Homo sapiens: one gene and its partners. The protein of the gene in region 4 purifies or fractionates together with the protein of the main gene of each other region. This does not show direct contact. Each region holds a gene or a part of one and is shown on either strand. Other genes may lie near its edges.

Region 1 (3,500 bases), on a different chromosome or scaffold from region 4:
TCCTAACTTGATTGTCCTACCCTCAACACCTATCAGAAGAGGTAGCCTTTAAGACTTAGCCATAGTTTTTCCAGAATTGTTTTGTAAGCCAGCACAGAAAATGACTGATGTCAAAACTGCATTTTCTGAAAAGCAAGTACATTGTTGCAGTTGACCTAGATGTATATTCACTTTTGGCCCATCAATAAAATCATGAGGCAAAGCTGACGTGTGGTACAAATCTTGTGCGGATTCCAGTTAATGGACCACTGCATATATAAAACCTTTTCCCAAGAATTTTTGTGTTAGTATTTTGGTTAAATGTAGATCATTTTTGCCCATTCATTGACAGGTACAAAATCAAAAGTATAATTTCTTAATGAAATCTCCAGTGTAATCAAATGTAGAAATCCATGCTATTCTCTTGTAAAGACAAGACTTCTAAAGTGGTTCTATTGACTTTATGCATTTTGGTGGTCAGGTTTCGGTGGAACGGCATGTCTCGATTGGAGAAGGTGTATCTGAAGAACAGTGTCATGGAGCTGATTGCAAATGTAAGGAATGGGTGGTTGGGAGACATGTTTCCAAGGTAGTTTAGGCAAAGCGTGACTTCTTCAATAGGGAGTTTGTGTAAAAATTCACTGCTTCTAAATAGGTCAGACAGCACAAGAAATCATAATTTAGGCCAGGCACAGTGACTCACACCTGTAATTCTAGCGCTTTGGGAAGCCAAGGTAAGAGGATCACCTGCATCTAAGAATTCGAGAGCAGCTTGGGCAATGCAGTGAGACCCCATCTCTACCAAAAATGCAAAAATTAGCTGAGCGTGGTGGCGCATGCCTGTGGCCCAGCTACTCAGGAGGCTGAGGTGGGAGGATTTTCTGAGCCCAGGAGGTCCAGGCTGCAGTGAGCTGTGATGGTGCCATGGCACTCCAGCCTGTGCAACAGAGCAAGACCCTATCTCAAAAACAAAACAAAACAAAAGCAGAAAGCATAATTCAGCATATGTCTCTTACTAGGTTTAATTAATCATGCTTATGTATTGACTTCTATTTTTTAAATTATAAAGACAGGGCAGAGGGGATTAAATATTTTCAACAAATCAATAAGATTCTTAGATCTAAATTAGATTGAAACACTATTTTCTTTTATTCCAAACAACTACTATGTGATACTAATGATGAAAAACATGCAGAATTTTAAGTATGCAGAATGAATTTGTTTCAAGTATTAGAATATGACTTTTTTTTTTTTTTGAGACAGAGTCTCTGTTGCTCCGGCTGGATTGCATTAGCATGATCATAGCTCACTGCAGCCTCGAACTCCTGGGCTCAAGTGATCTTCTCGCCTTAGCCTCCCAAGTAGCTGGGATTATAGGCATGTGGTACCATGCCCAGCTAATTTTGTTTTTGGTTTTTAGAGAGACAGGGTCTCACTGTGTTTCCCAGGCTAGTCTGGTCTCAAACCCCTGGCCTCAAGCAATCCTCCCACCTTGGCTTTCCAAAATGCTGAGATTACAGGTGTGATGACTGGATGACTGTCTCTTTAAACACAAAACAGAATATGACTTTAAACATGTTCAAAATTGTAGCCTTTTTTCTTTCTTGGTTTTTTTTAAATAACAGACATGAGAGATGGGATCTTCTAATACTTCTGCGTCTTCTAGTGTTAGAACTATTGGTAAAATATTCATTTGCCCCTTCATACCCTTCCATTTTACCAGCTACTCACTATACTCCTTATTTCTATACTCTTCCTCCCTGGCCTTCTGCAAACTGAAACAATCAATATGAGAATCTTTTCATTTTGTAAAGAATAATGATGTCATCCTAGCTCTCGATATGACAGCCTTTTAGGTGATGCAACCCTCACTTAAGCTTTAAGCGGAAGAGTGATTAGCAAGAATGCAGGACAAGTGACTCAGGCTGAAGAACAGGTTCATTTGTTCTGTTTGGTTTAAAAGTAGGCCTGCTGATAAATTTTTTACAACTCTACAGCCCAGCTTTTTTCTGGAAGTCTGGAATCCAGTCTTGCATATCTCTTAATATCTCTTGTTCTTTTTCAGGGAACATTGAACATTTTGGAAGAGGAGAACCATATTAAAGATGCTCTGTCTCGAATTGTAGTGGAAATGATCAAGCGAGAGTGGCCACAGCATTGGCCTGACATGCTAATAGAATTGGACACTCTTTCCAAACAAGGGGTATGAAACACAGCTATATCAGTTTGGTATACTTTTCCTTGGAACAAACTTCAGGGTTTGTTGTTTGATTTTGTTTGTGGGTTTTTTTTTTTGGCAACAGAAAATAGCCTTTGGATATACATAAAATGAAAAGATATTTTAGTTTTTAACTAGCTTATTTCTATTGGTGTAGGAAACACAGACAGAATTGGTGATGTTTATCCTTTTGCGACTGGCAGAGGATGTAGTGACTTTTCAGACACTTCCCCCTCAAAGAAGAAGGGACATCCAGCAAACATTAACCCAGAACATGGAAAGGATCTTCAGTTTTCTGCTTAACACACTTCAAGAAAATGTAAACAAGTATCAGCAAGTGGTAAGGGATACCCCTACCTATAACATTTCTATTTTCCAATATGAGTGTTTTTGATTAATCTTACAGTAAGGAACTAGGGTGTCTAGGTCAGCAAAATGAAATCCTATTTTATAAGCAAAAAAATAAAAAACTAGGAAATGACAGAAAAACTGGAGCTCATTTTCTTTCTTTTTTTTTTTTTTTTTTTTTTGAGACGGAGGCTCGCTCTGTCACCTAGGCTGGAGTGCAGTGGTGTGATCCCGGCTCACTGCAACCTCTGCCTCCCAGGTTCAAGCGATTCTCCTGCCTCAACCTCCCAAGTAGCTGGGACTACAGGCGCCCGCCACCAGGCCCGGCTGATTTTTTGTATTTCTAGTAGAGACGGGGTTTCACTATGTTAGCCAGGAAGGTCTTGATCTCCTGACCTCATGATCCGCCCGCCTCCCAAAGTGCTGGGATTATAGGTGTGAGCCACGGCACCTGGCCTTTTTTAAAAAAAAAAAAAAAAAAAAAAAAAAAGATAGGGATCTCGGCTTACTGCAGCCTCCACCTCCTGGGATTACAGGCATGTGCCACCACACCTGGCTAATTTTTGTATTTTTAGTAGAGATGGAGTTTCGCTGTGTTAGCAAGGCTAGTCTCAAACTCCTGACCTCAGGTGGTCTACCCACCTTGCTCTCCCAAAGTGCTGAGATTATAGGTGTGAGCCACCGAGCCCAGCCCTAGGTGTTATTCTTAATTTTATTTTCAGAAGTTCTTTAGGAAAATACTAATTTTTTTTTTTTTTTTGGAGAGGGAGTCTCACTCTGTCACCCATGCTGGAGTGCAGTGGCACAATCTCGGCTCACTGCAACCTCCGCCTCCTGGGTTCAAGCGATTCTCCTGCCTCAGCCTCCCGGGTAGCTGAGATTACCGGTGCCTGCCACCATGCCCGTCTAATTTTTGTATTTTAGTAGAGATGGTGTTTCACCATGTTGGTCAGGC
Region 2 (3,500 bases), on a different chromosome or scaffold from region 4:
ATTCACAAACCTGTTAGTGTCCCAAATAATGACATTTCCATCAAATCCTGATGTTACTAAGAGTCTTGTATTAGTATCATATTCGATGTTCTTCACCCAGCTAGTGTGACCATGTAAAGTGCATACTTTGGTGTTCAATTTTCTCAGATCCCATAGTGCTATTGTAGTGTCATCAGAGCAGGTAGCAAACAGCCGGTTATCAAGAAATCTATAAAAGCAGAAAAACAAAACCCTGGTTCATTTAATCTCTTTTTAAAGGAAAATTGATTTGAGAAACAGTCACTATATTACCTAGTCAAGAAAGAAAGAAAAAAAGGACTACACACTCACTATGTAAACCCAATGACTGATATACTATAAAAAGTATACTTTGCATAATCACAGAGCCAGGATACTATGATTTAATGACAGTCATATTGCAATTGGATCCATTTGCTTTAAATTACTGATTTTTATTTGAAATTGGAAATAGGGGTAAGTGTTTGGAAAACAGTGACAGAAGGGAAAAAAAGAACTTCAGAATCTCTATAGGAAACAAAAATGATGAGAGAGAATTTAATAGGCGATAGAGGAAGTTTTGAAGACTTGATTGCCGAGAGGGACACATTACACATAATCAAAATCATGAGAAATATTTGCTCTGCTACAAGGAACATCTTTTTCTATTTAGAACACAGTTACATACAAAAATTGCTATAAAATTGCCATTATTTTAAATCTTTTAACTGAAAGGTATTTCCCAAATAATCTCTTAGCAACATTTTATTAGGACCAATCAAGAAAATTACAAAATAGGCTTAAAATACTCTATAATTCAGACTTTTTATTATTTTACACTAACTTCTCAATCCTTAGTGAGAATATATTTAATACAAATACTTAAAAAATAAACTACTATTCACACTTGAATTTTTGCTTAATTTAACATTAGGATGCTTTCTGTAATACATGCTGTTATCCTAATCTCTTACAGAAGAAATGAATTCTGGTGCTTCTTCTAAGATAAATTTACATATAATTGTCAGAAATCAACCTCAATATCCACAAACACCATAACGACCTTCCTAAAATTGATCACGGTTTTCAAATACCAGGCGTTTACACAGGTTGTTTCTGCTAGGTGAAACAACCTTCCTCCTGCCCCTGGATCTGGCTAATTCTTGCTTTCTTTTTAATACCATCATGTGTCACTTAATGATGGAATACATTCTGAGAAATGTGTCCTTAGGTGATTTTGTTGTTGTGTGAACATCATAGAATGAACTTACACAAACCTAGATGGTACACACTGAGGTTATATGGTATATATGGTATATAGCCTATCACTCATAGGCTACAAATGTGCACAGCATGTTACCATACTAAATACTGTAGGCAACTGTAACACAATCGTAAGTATTTGTATATTGAAAGATAGAAAAAATACAGTAAAAGTACTGTATAAAAGATTTAAAATGTTACGCCTGTATAGGGCACTTACCATGAATGGAGCTTGCAGGCGTGGGAGTTGCTCTGGGTGAGTCAGTGAGTGAGGGGTGAGTCAGTGTGAAGGCCTAGGGCATTACTGTCCATTACTGTAGACATTATAAAGACTGTACACTTAGGCTACACTAAATTAATTTAAAAATTTTTCATCAGTAATAAATTAACCTTCGATTACTATAACTTTTTTTACTTCATGAATTTTTAATTTTTTAAACTTTTGACTCTTTTGTAATAACAGCTTAAACACAAACACATTGTACAACTGTACAAAAATATTTTCTTTCTTTATAGCCTTATTTTATTAACTTTTTTCTATTAAAATGTTTACTTTTTAAACTTTTTTGTTAAAAACAAAGACACACATTAGCCTAGTTCTACACAGGGTAAAAATCATCAATATCACTGTCTTCCATCTCCACATCTTGCCCCACTGGAAGGCCTCCAGGGGCAATAACAGGAACAGAGCTGTCATCTCCTGATAACAATGGCTTCTCCTGGAATACCTCCTGAAGAACCTCCCTGAGGCTGTTTTACAGTTTAATTTTTTTTTAAGTAGGAGTACATTCTAAAATAACAATAATAAGTATAACATAGTAAGTATTAGGCAATAGGAATTTTTCAGCTCCATTATAATCTTCTGGAACCACTGTTGTATATGGTGTCACTCACTGAAATGTTGTTATGTGGCATATAACTGTATTCAGCTGTTATGCCCTCCAGGAAGCCTTCCTTGTTTAACCAGCCTGGTAGACCTACCAATTCTCTGAGCTCCCAAAGCATTCTGGGAGCTTCTATCATAATACTTAATATTATACTGTAAGGAACAACTTTACTGTAAACTCCCTGAAGACAGAAGGAACCTGTCTGCCTAGGGTCATGGTTAGATCTGCAGTATACAATACACATGGTGCCAGACACATATGCACTCAACAAATACTTACAAAATAAATGAAAGAGAAGTTCACTGCCTAGCAGAAAAGACACTGTAAGTACATAATTACACGAAATAATTGTGTGGAATAAGCAAAGAGGGTGGCTGGGAAAGACTTCATGATGTTATCATTTGAACTGAATAAAAGATGAGCAGGAACTCCCTAAGTGGTCAGGGTTACTAAGCAAAGATACACAGGCATGTGAGCGGATGGTGCCCTCTGAGAAGCAGCAGTTAGGAGTGCTGTGTGTGGGAAAGTAGAGATGACTAGGGAATACATTATGGATTTATTCTATGGTGATTACCAGTAACTATTTTTTAATTATAAAAATACATTTCCTGGCCAAGCGTGGTAGCTCATACCTATAATCCCAACATTTTGGAAGGCCAAGATGGATGGATCACTTGAGCTCAGGAGTTTGAGACCAGCCTGGGCAACATGACGAAACCCCATCTCTTATTTTAAAAATAACGATAACAAAAAACATTTCTACTGAAAATATTTTTAATGAAAAAAAATCGGCTGGGCGCAGTGGCTCACGCCTGTAATCCCAGCACTTTGAGAGGCTGAGGCGGGTGGATCACAAGGTCAGGAGTTCAAGACCAGCCTGGCCGAGATGGTGAAACCCTGTCTCTACTAAAAATACAAAAAAAATTAGCTGGGCATGGTGGCGGGCGCCTGTAATCCCAGCTACTCGGAGGCTGAGGCAGAGGCAGAGAATTGCTTGAACCCGGGAGGCGGATGTTGCAGTGAGCTGAGATCGTGCCACTGCACTCCAGCTGGGGCACAGAGCAAGATTCCGTCTCAAAAAAAAGAAAAAGAAAAAAAAAATCCATCACCAAAAATAACCACTTTATTGATGTTTAGCTTAATTTCTGTTTTAAACCTAATATTATCTCAAAAACATATTGCCATTATTAAAGGTTTATTAACAAAATCATGTTTAATGGCTGAATAGTGTTCACTGTATGAAGAACTGAAACCTTTTTTCTTTTTAATTTTTTTTTTTTTGGAGACAGAGTCACGCTTTATCCCCCAGGTGCTCACTGCAACCTCTACCTCCTACATTCAAGTGATTCTCAT
Region 3 (3,500 bases), on a different chromosome or scaffold from region 4:
TGGCTGCTCAGTGCCTGAGATTGTTTTAGCAGCAGAAGGGACCGGGTCCCCCTGCTGCTGGCAACACAGACGCTTGCTTACAGTTCTCTGGTCCTGGACACCTGAGGTCTCGGCCTCCCCAGGACGGCCCTTCCAGATTCTCAGGACCGCCTTGCCCTCCCTGCCCTGTCTCCTAGGTGACCCTGGCAAAGATGAGAGTGCACATTTCGTCCTGCCTGAAGGTCCAGGAGCAGATGGCCAACTGCCCCAAGTTCGTCCCCGTGGTGCCCACATCACAGCCTATCCCCAGGTAGGCACGCTGCCGGGCAAGGGAGAGGAACTGTCCTCGGCGGTTTCCTCGTTCTGGGAGCAAGCGCAGTGCCCCATCCCAGAGAGGCTGGGGGAGTCACCCGGGGCCGGGTCCACTCTGGGGAAGTGGACCTTCCTTGCCACCCTGCAGGAAGGCTCCTGTGCTGCCCTCCCTGGCATACCCACCAGGCCCCCTGGGGTAGGGACAGCTCAGCTGTGGGGAGCAGGAGGAGGGCGCAGGCCGGGCCCACACATCGCCTCCCAGCAGGTGGATGGGCCGAGAGACGGCTCCTGCCAGGGCAGCGCCAGCAGAGTCTCTGCCGTTTGGCTGGCCTAGTTGTGTGGGGTGGACGAGGGTCCTGGGTGTGTCCTCAGGAGGCCATGGCGTGCAGAGGCACGGGGGGCACCCAGCCACTGCCACGCTCTTGCAGCCTACAGAGGGCAGGCCTGGGGCCACGCCTGTGTTTGAGAGAAGCGGGGAGGCAGAGCCCCTAGACACCTAGCCGTGCCACTCACTCTACCCCCGCCCCGCCAGCAACATCCCCAACAGGTCCACCTTCGCCTGCCCGTACTGTGGTGCCCGCAACCTGGACCAGCAGGAGCTGGTGAAGCACTGTGTGGAAAGCCACCGCAGCGACCCCAACCGCGTGGTGAGCAGTGCCTGCCCCAAGCGACGCCTGCGCCAGGGGAGGCCTGTGGGGGACAGTACAAGGCCCAGGAGCCTGCTCGCGGCGAGTCCGGGGGTGCCCAGGCCACAAAGGCCTCCTGGGACCCAGGGTGGGAACTTGGCTGCCCGAGCAGCACCTGGCGGAAACCGGGGAGTGTCCATGAGTCCTTCAGGGTGACGCGCACTGAATAACTCGCTTGTCACCGGGACACGCGCCTCCAGGTCTGGGGTGCCTTCCCAGGCTGAGGCAGCACTGACGGGGCTCAGTGGAGGGCCCCCAGTCCTACTGCGGCTACCCCGCCTCTCCGCGGTCCGGCTCGGCTTGACCCCAGTGCCTGTTCCAGGTGTGCCCCATCTGCTCGGCAATGCCCTGGGGGGACCCCAGCTACAAGAGCGCCAACTTCCTGCAGCACCTGCTTCACCGACACAAGTTCTCCTACGACACCTTTGTGGTAGGCATCCCGCCAGCACCGTCCTCCCCCACGCCCTCCTCATCCACCCTCCTCCTGCTCGGGCCCCTCGCCAGCCTCAGGGTCCGCAGGGTTCAGAGGAAGCCAGAAACAGAAGCCTCGTTTCAGGTGGCCACATTCCCCCAGGTTCTGTGGGGGCTGCCTGCAGGTGGGGAGTGATGGCAGCTGAGTTTGAGTGGCCACTAGAGGGTGCCCAGGCCTCTCGGGGACATGGACCGCACAGGGCAGGTCCCTGCCTGCCCACCCCACAGAACCCCTCGAGGGTGAGCCAGGCTTCCTTCTGGAAGCTTTCTAGAGAGCGCGGGAAGGACTTTCATCAACATCGAACACTCCAGCCCTGTCTCCTTTTCCCACCCGCCGCGGGTCAGGCACACACCTGGCCCCCGGGCCTGCAGACCCTCGCACAAACTCCTCACTCCTGGTGCGGCCCCTCCCTGCGCCGCCCTGTTCATTCCTGGCCCTGGCTAACAGTCCTGGCGATGGCTGTCACTCCCTCTGCCAGTCGTCCGGGACCCACGCTCCGCCTGCCTCAGGATGGAAATTGTTAGAGGTCAGGGAGCCCTGGCCGGCCTGCTCACCTCGGAAACCCCGGGCTTAGAGTCCGACCTGAACCAGCAGCCATCCATTCCGAGTGCCCCCGTACCCAGCGGGTGATGGACACACCTTCACCTTCTCACCCCCCAGAGGACCGTGCAGGCCCCGAGCCTGTGGGGACAGTGGAGCTGGGTCCTTCCTGTGTCCTGCTGGAGGGAGGCAGGAAGGGTGGACACGCCTGTGTGGGTGATGGGCAGAGGGGACCTCTCCTTCCTGTCTCCCTCGAGCCCGGTGCATCTCTCCTTCCTGTCTCCAGGACTACAGTATTGACGAGGAGGCCGCCTTCCAGGCTGCTCTGGCCCTGTCTCTCTCTGAGAACTGAAGGGAAGCGCAGCCACCCGCCTGCGTCTGGGGTCAGGGATGTCCCCGCTCCTGTGTCGCACCTGGCACCTGCTCGGGAGCGCACCTCACCGGACTGAGCTCACAGGAGGAGCCTGCACCCGCGCAGAAGGGGAGCCGGGGCCGAGCCTCCGGGCCTGAATACGGGCCAGCCGCCGAGGCCGCCAGAGCAGGGCCGCCTGGTCCCACCGGCGTCGCTGGGTTCTTCGGTGCTTCTGGCCGAGCAGGCGGCCTACTTGGGCAGGGCTGGACGCTGGGACCTGGAGCTGCCGCCGTCTCTTCAAAGCCATGATACCCCCTCGTGGGAAGAAGGGACCGACGCGCGAGTCGCGCTCCGCAGTCGAGCCGGGAGGAACCCAGGCTGCTGCCCTGCCCAGCCCGACCCTGCCCCGGCCCCACTTCCACCTTGCGCATTTGGTACTGGCTTTTGTGATACTTAGGAACCCTGGCATCTTTTCTATATTATCCAGTGTGATAATCTTTTCACGTTTTATAGAGCAAAGACAGAGCAGTTACTCTTCATATTGCAATATCTGTGTTTGACTAGGAATAATAGTATTTTTATGGAACATTTACAAAATTATATTTTTTAAGAAAACAATCAAAACAAGCATTGGGGGATTGGGGCAAGGATGGAAGGAGCAGTGGGGCAGCTGCCAGAGCTCAGGCGAGCCATGGGGTCTGCTGTGGGGTCTGCCCTGGCCACCCACTGTGTGTCTGGGTCCTTGAGGTTTGTACGTTTCTCTTTGATGACCAGGAAGAAATCCCAGCACCCCAGCCACAGGCTGTGGCTGCTCCCAGCAGAGGCGGGGCCGGCAGAGAAGGGGCCTCCTCCACCCAGAGTCCTGGCCTTGGCCCGCTGTCACCTTCAAAGCTGACTGTGCCCCGCTGCGGGAGGGGACGGCACCCCAGTGGTGGCAGAGCTTGGGGGCCTGGGCAGGGGCCCGCTTGGCGGGCCGGGCAACACGTCAACATTCTTTTCTGTTCTTGGCATTAATTATTGCTGTCTTTTTTTTAAAAAAAAAAGTTTAAATAAAATGTCTCAGAGCATCTCTAGCAGCCTCGACTGGCTTTTGTGCTCCACGGTGTGGAATCGCCAGCTGCTGTCTGTGTTGGAGGTCGGCTGTGTCCTCCCCAGGCAG
Region 4 (3,500 bases):
CTGCACCCAGCCTGCCTTGTGTATTTTAAAGCACAGCCAAGATCTCATATAATTTTACCTGCAGATACTGGACCACGAAAACCTGTGAAACATAATCCAAATATCCTATCACTGCCAGCAATAATTTATTAACATCATCTAATACTCAGGCAATATCCAGTTTTCCCTGATTGTCTTGAAAATTATTCGTTGCTTGCTGTTCTTTTTCATAACCTGTTCTTTTCCTTGATAGAACTTACCACAATTTGCTGTTTTGTTCTTTCATGTGTATGTGTTTTATGTCTGACTCAACCACTAGACTGGGAGCTCCCTGGCAGGGGAACCATGTCTGACTTGAGCCTAGCACAGTGCCTGACACATAGTAAGTCCTTCATGAATACTTATTGCGGGGAACTCAGAGAGGCTGAGTGACTCACCCAAGATCACCCAGTTTAAAAGTGGAGATGTCACAGCGACATCCTGGTTTGAACCCAGGACTCCGACTCCTAAATCATGACCTGAACCACTACCCATTAATGAATTAGAACATTCATTGGTTCATCCCACAAACATAGATGGAGTGCTCCAGCCCCATGGAAATAGGAATCTGCCGTGGCCCTTCAAAGACAGTGTCATCTAATGGGAGAAATGACTATGTGTCAAGGTAGAAAGCCACAGTTGGGAGAGACCCCCTTCAGCTAAAGGGCTGGGGAGCAGGGAGGTGTCCCTAGAGGAAGCACCATCAGAGGCAGATTGTTAAGAGGTCACAGAATGCGGAAATCAGATGGGCACCTGGAAGAAAGGGCACTATGAGCAGAGGCTCAGAGGAGGGAAACACAGTGGGGAGGACTGAGTCCCAGGCGGGGGAGGGGAGGGGTGTGAGGTCAGGCAGGGAGGGGTGTGAGGTCAGGCAGGGAGGGTCAGTGGGCTGGGGCACTCAGGCACCACCTGCAACAGCACCACCTGCAACAGGGGAGGAGGTCACAGAAAGCCCCAAGGACACCAATGCTGGGCTAACCCTGTGTGATGCAGAGTGGAGGTGTCAGTTTCTGTGCGGTTCAGGGGCGCCCTGGGGATAGGGCAGGGCCAGAGCAGGGGAGGTCACTGGCCCTATGTGGGCCATCTGAGTTTTCCCTAAGGTCCCAATTCCGTGATCTTTTAGTTCCTTCCTTTACTCTGTCAAAGACACAAGAACGGATCTGTTTGCTTTGTGAAGAGGCTCAAATGAATATTCTACTTAAGCTTTCCATTACGTGAGCATTTAGTATGTGCCAGGCACTGTGCTGGGCCCTACAACTCTGCCAACAACCCTACGAAGAAGTCAGTACTGTTATTTTCCCTATGTTGGAAATGAGGAAACTGAGGCACGGAGAGGCTAAGACCACACTGCCTGCAAGTGGTACAGCCAGGGATGGCCCCAACTGAAATTTGGTTCTGAAATTTGGGTTCTTATCCACTATCCTGCACTGTCTCCAAAATGTGTCCTTAAAATATATGTGTGAGCCACATATATTTTATTTATACATATTTATTTATTTATTTATTCATATTTACGAAGTCAGGACATCTCAAAAGCCATACCTTACTCTAAATACAAAGGAAACTTGCCTTTTTCACGTAAAAACTTCCATGTAGAAATATTCGGAGGCTAGACCAGATGCGGTGGTTCATGCCACCTGTAATCCCAGCACTTTGGGAGGCCGAGGCAGGCAGATCACCTGAGGTCAGGAGTTCACGACCAGCCTGGCCAACACGGCGAAAGTCCATCTCTACTAAAAATACAAAAATTAGCCGGGTGTTGTGGTGGTCGCCTGTAATCCCAGCTACTCGGGAGGCTGAGGCAGGAGAATTGCTTGAACCTGGGAGGCAGAGGTTGCAGTGAGCCGAGATCGTGCCATTGCACTCCAGCCTGGGTGACAGGAGCGAAACTCCTTCTCAAAAAAAAAAAAAAAATTAGAAATATTCTGAGACTTTAGATAAGATAATTGATTGTTCCAAATAGGTTTCTTTATGCATTCAAAGTTGGGTCCACTGTGCTCTCTTAAGGCAAGTGTGATTTGGCTTTAGTTTCCTTGGCTTCTGTGCCTTGGCACTGATACTTGTGTAAGCTGCTGTAATTCTCATCTAGTATTAAGACAGAAGAAACACTATTCATGTGAACTTTTCCACCTTCCTTCCAGCCCCCTCCCCCAGCTTGTCAAAGAGGATTCTGGCTTTTCCCCTTCTTTCCTTATGCTGATTTGAAATATATTTCTCCTTGATGAGGCTTGAAAAATGCAAGTAAAAGTCTTATGTAACAATGTAATCCAGATCTAAATTTTAAATGATAACTGAAAATCTTCATACGTTTGGAAACTAAGAAATGCACTTGTAAATAACCCATAGGTCAAAGAAAAGATAATAATGAAAAATAAGTGCATTTTGATCTAGGTAGAGGAAAAATACTACACATCAAAATGCAATGCAGCTAAAATAGTACTTAGAGGACAATGCATAGTCTTCAATGTGTATATTGTAAAAGTACTTGGCTTACTCTGGAATTGCCTTCTGGAATTTTACTGTATTTTTTTTTTTAACTTTGATGTCCTTTGTGGTCAAACCCAGAGTTCCTGCTAGTCTGTGTCACCCAGCAGTATCATGAATTTCTCTCTCCCAGGGTCACTCAGCTGCCGCAAGGAGCAAGGCAAGTTCTATGACCATCTCCTGAGGGACTGCATCAGCTGTGCCTCCATCTGTGGACAGCACCCTAAGCAATGTGCATACTTCTGTGAGAACAAGCTCAGGAGCCCAGTGAACCTTCCACCAGAGCTCAGGAGACAGCGGAGTGGAGAAGTTGAAAACAATTCAGACAACTCGGGAAGGTACCAAGGATTGGAGCACAGAGGCTCAGAAGCAAGTCCAGGTAAGCCACCCAAGGCAAACCTGCATGGTGTCACGCAGGGTGAGAAAGCGTGGGAGGCCTGATGCCAGGCCTAGAACAGGAGAGTCCACAATGCATGAAGCCCAGAGTCCAAGCAAATGGCCAGAAGCCAGGGAGATCATCCCAGGATAAAAAAAACAATGTAGGCAACATTTCCAGAAGTCTGTGGACAAGAAGAAAGCAGGAGAAAGGACCTGCCGTGTGAGGAAGAGCCTTGCACTAGAGGCTGCCGAGGCTGTGCCAGTCATTGAAGCACAGGCACAAGTAAGCAGCAGACCCACCTGTGTGAGCACCTGAGCAGCAGCCACCACCTGCCCTCCACCAGTGCTGCAGACTCCATTTATTTCTATTATTATTTTATTTATAATTTCAACTTTTTTTTTTAGATCCGGGGGTACATGTGTAGGGTTTGTTACATGGGTATGTTGCTTGATGCTAAGGTTTGAGGTACAAATGGTCTTGTCACCCAGGTGGTGAGCATAGCACCCAATAGGTAGTTTTTCAGCCCTTGCCCTCTCTCTCTGCCTCCCCCTTCTAGTAGGCCCCAGTGTCTGTTGTTCCTGTCTTTATGTCCATCTGTATTCGACACTTAGCATTTCAC

The links.
Region 1: the proteins of TNFRSF13B (region 4) and XPO5 purify together in Homo sapiens (co-immunoprecipitation; 2 studies listed by BioGRID and IntAct, with this or other methods). This does not show direct contact.
Region 2: the proteins of TNFRSF13B (region 4) and DCAF10 purify together in Homo sapiens (co-immunoprecipitation; 2 studies listed by BioGRID and IntAct, with this or other methods). This does not show direct contact.
Region 3: the proteins of TNFRSF13B (region 4) and RNF166 purify together in Homo sapiens (affinity purification with mass spectrometry; 2 studies listed by BioGRID and IntAct, with this or other methods). This does not show direct contact.

What each region holds. Positions count from the first base shown.
Region 1 is NC_000006.12:43,569,539-43,573,038, reverse strand, and holds part of XPO5 (exportin-5), read left to right. Parts: intron 1-460; coding exon 461-533; intron 534-2,044; coding exon 2,045-2,182; intron 2,183-2,354; coding exon 2,355-2,537; intron 2,538-3,500. UniProt on the Homo sapiens protein: Mediates the nuclear export of proteins bearing a double-stranded RNA binding domain (dsRBD) and double-stranded RNAs (cargos). XPO5 in the nucleus binds cooperatively to the RNA and to the GTPase Ran in its active GTP-bound form.
Region 2 is NC_000009.12:37,838,797-37,842,296, reverse strand, and holds part of DCAF10 (DDB1- and CUL4-associated factor 10), read right to left. Parts: intron 209-3,500; coding exon 11-208; intron 1-10. UniProt on the Homo sapiens protein: May function as a substrate receptor for CUL4-DDB1 E3 ubiquitin-protein ligase complex.
Region 3 is NC_000016.10:88,696,409-88,699,908, reverse strand, and holds the end of RNF166 (E3 ubiquitin-protein ligase RNF166), read left to right. Parts: exon of another isoform or gene 1-175; intron 176-176; coding exon 177-289; intron 290-823; coding exon 824-938; intron 939-1,299; coding exon 1,300-1,407; intron 1,408-1,793; coding exon of another isoform or gene 1,794-1,975; intron 1,976-2,275; coding exon 2,276-2,341; 3' UTR 2,342-3,408; downstream 3,409-3,500. UniProt on the Homo sapiens protein: E3 ubiquitin-protein ligase that promotes the ubiquitination of different substrates. In turn, participates in different biological processes including interferon production or autophagy.
Region 4 is NC_000017.11:16,948,119-16,951,618, reverse strand, and holds part of TNFRSF13B (tumor necrosis factor receptor superfamily member 13B), read left to right. Parts: intron 1-2,635; coding exon 2,636-2,881; intron 2,882-3,500. UniProt on the Homo sapiens protein: Receptor for TNFSF13/APRIL and TNFSF13B/TALL1/BAFF/BLYS that binds both ligands with similar high affinity. Mediates calcineurin-dependent activation of NF-AT, as well as activation of NF-kappa-B and AP-1.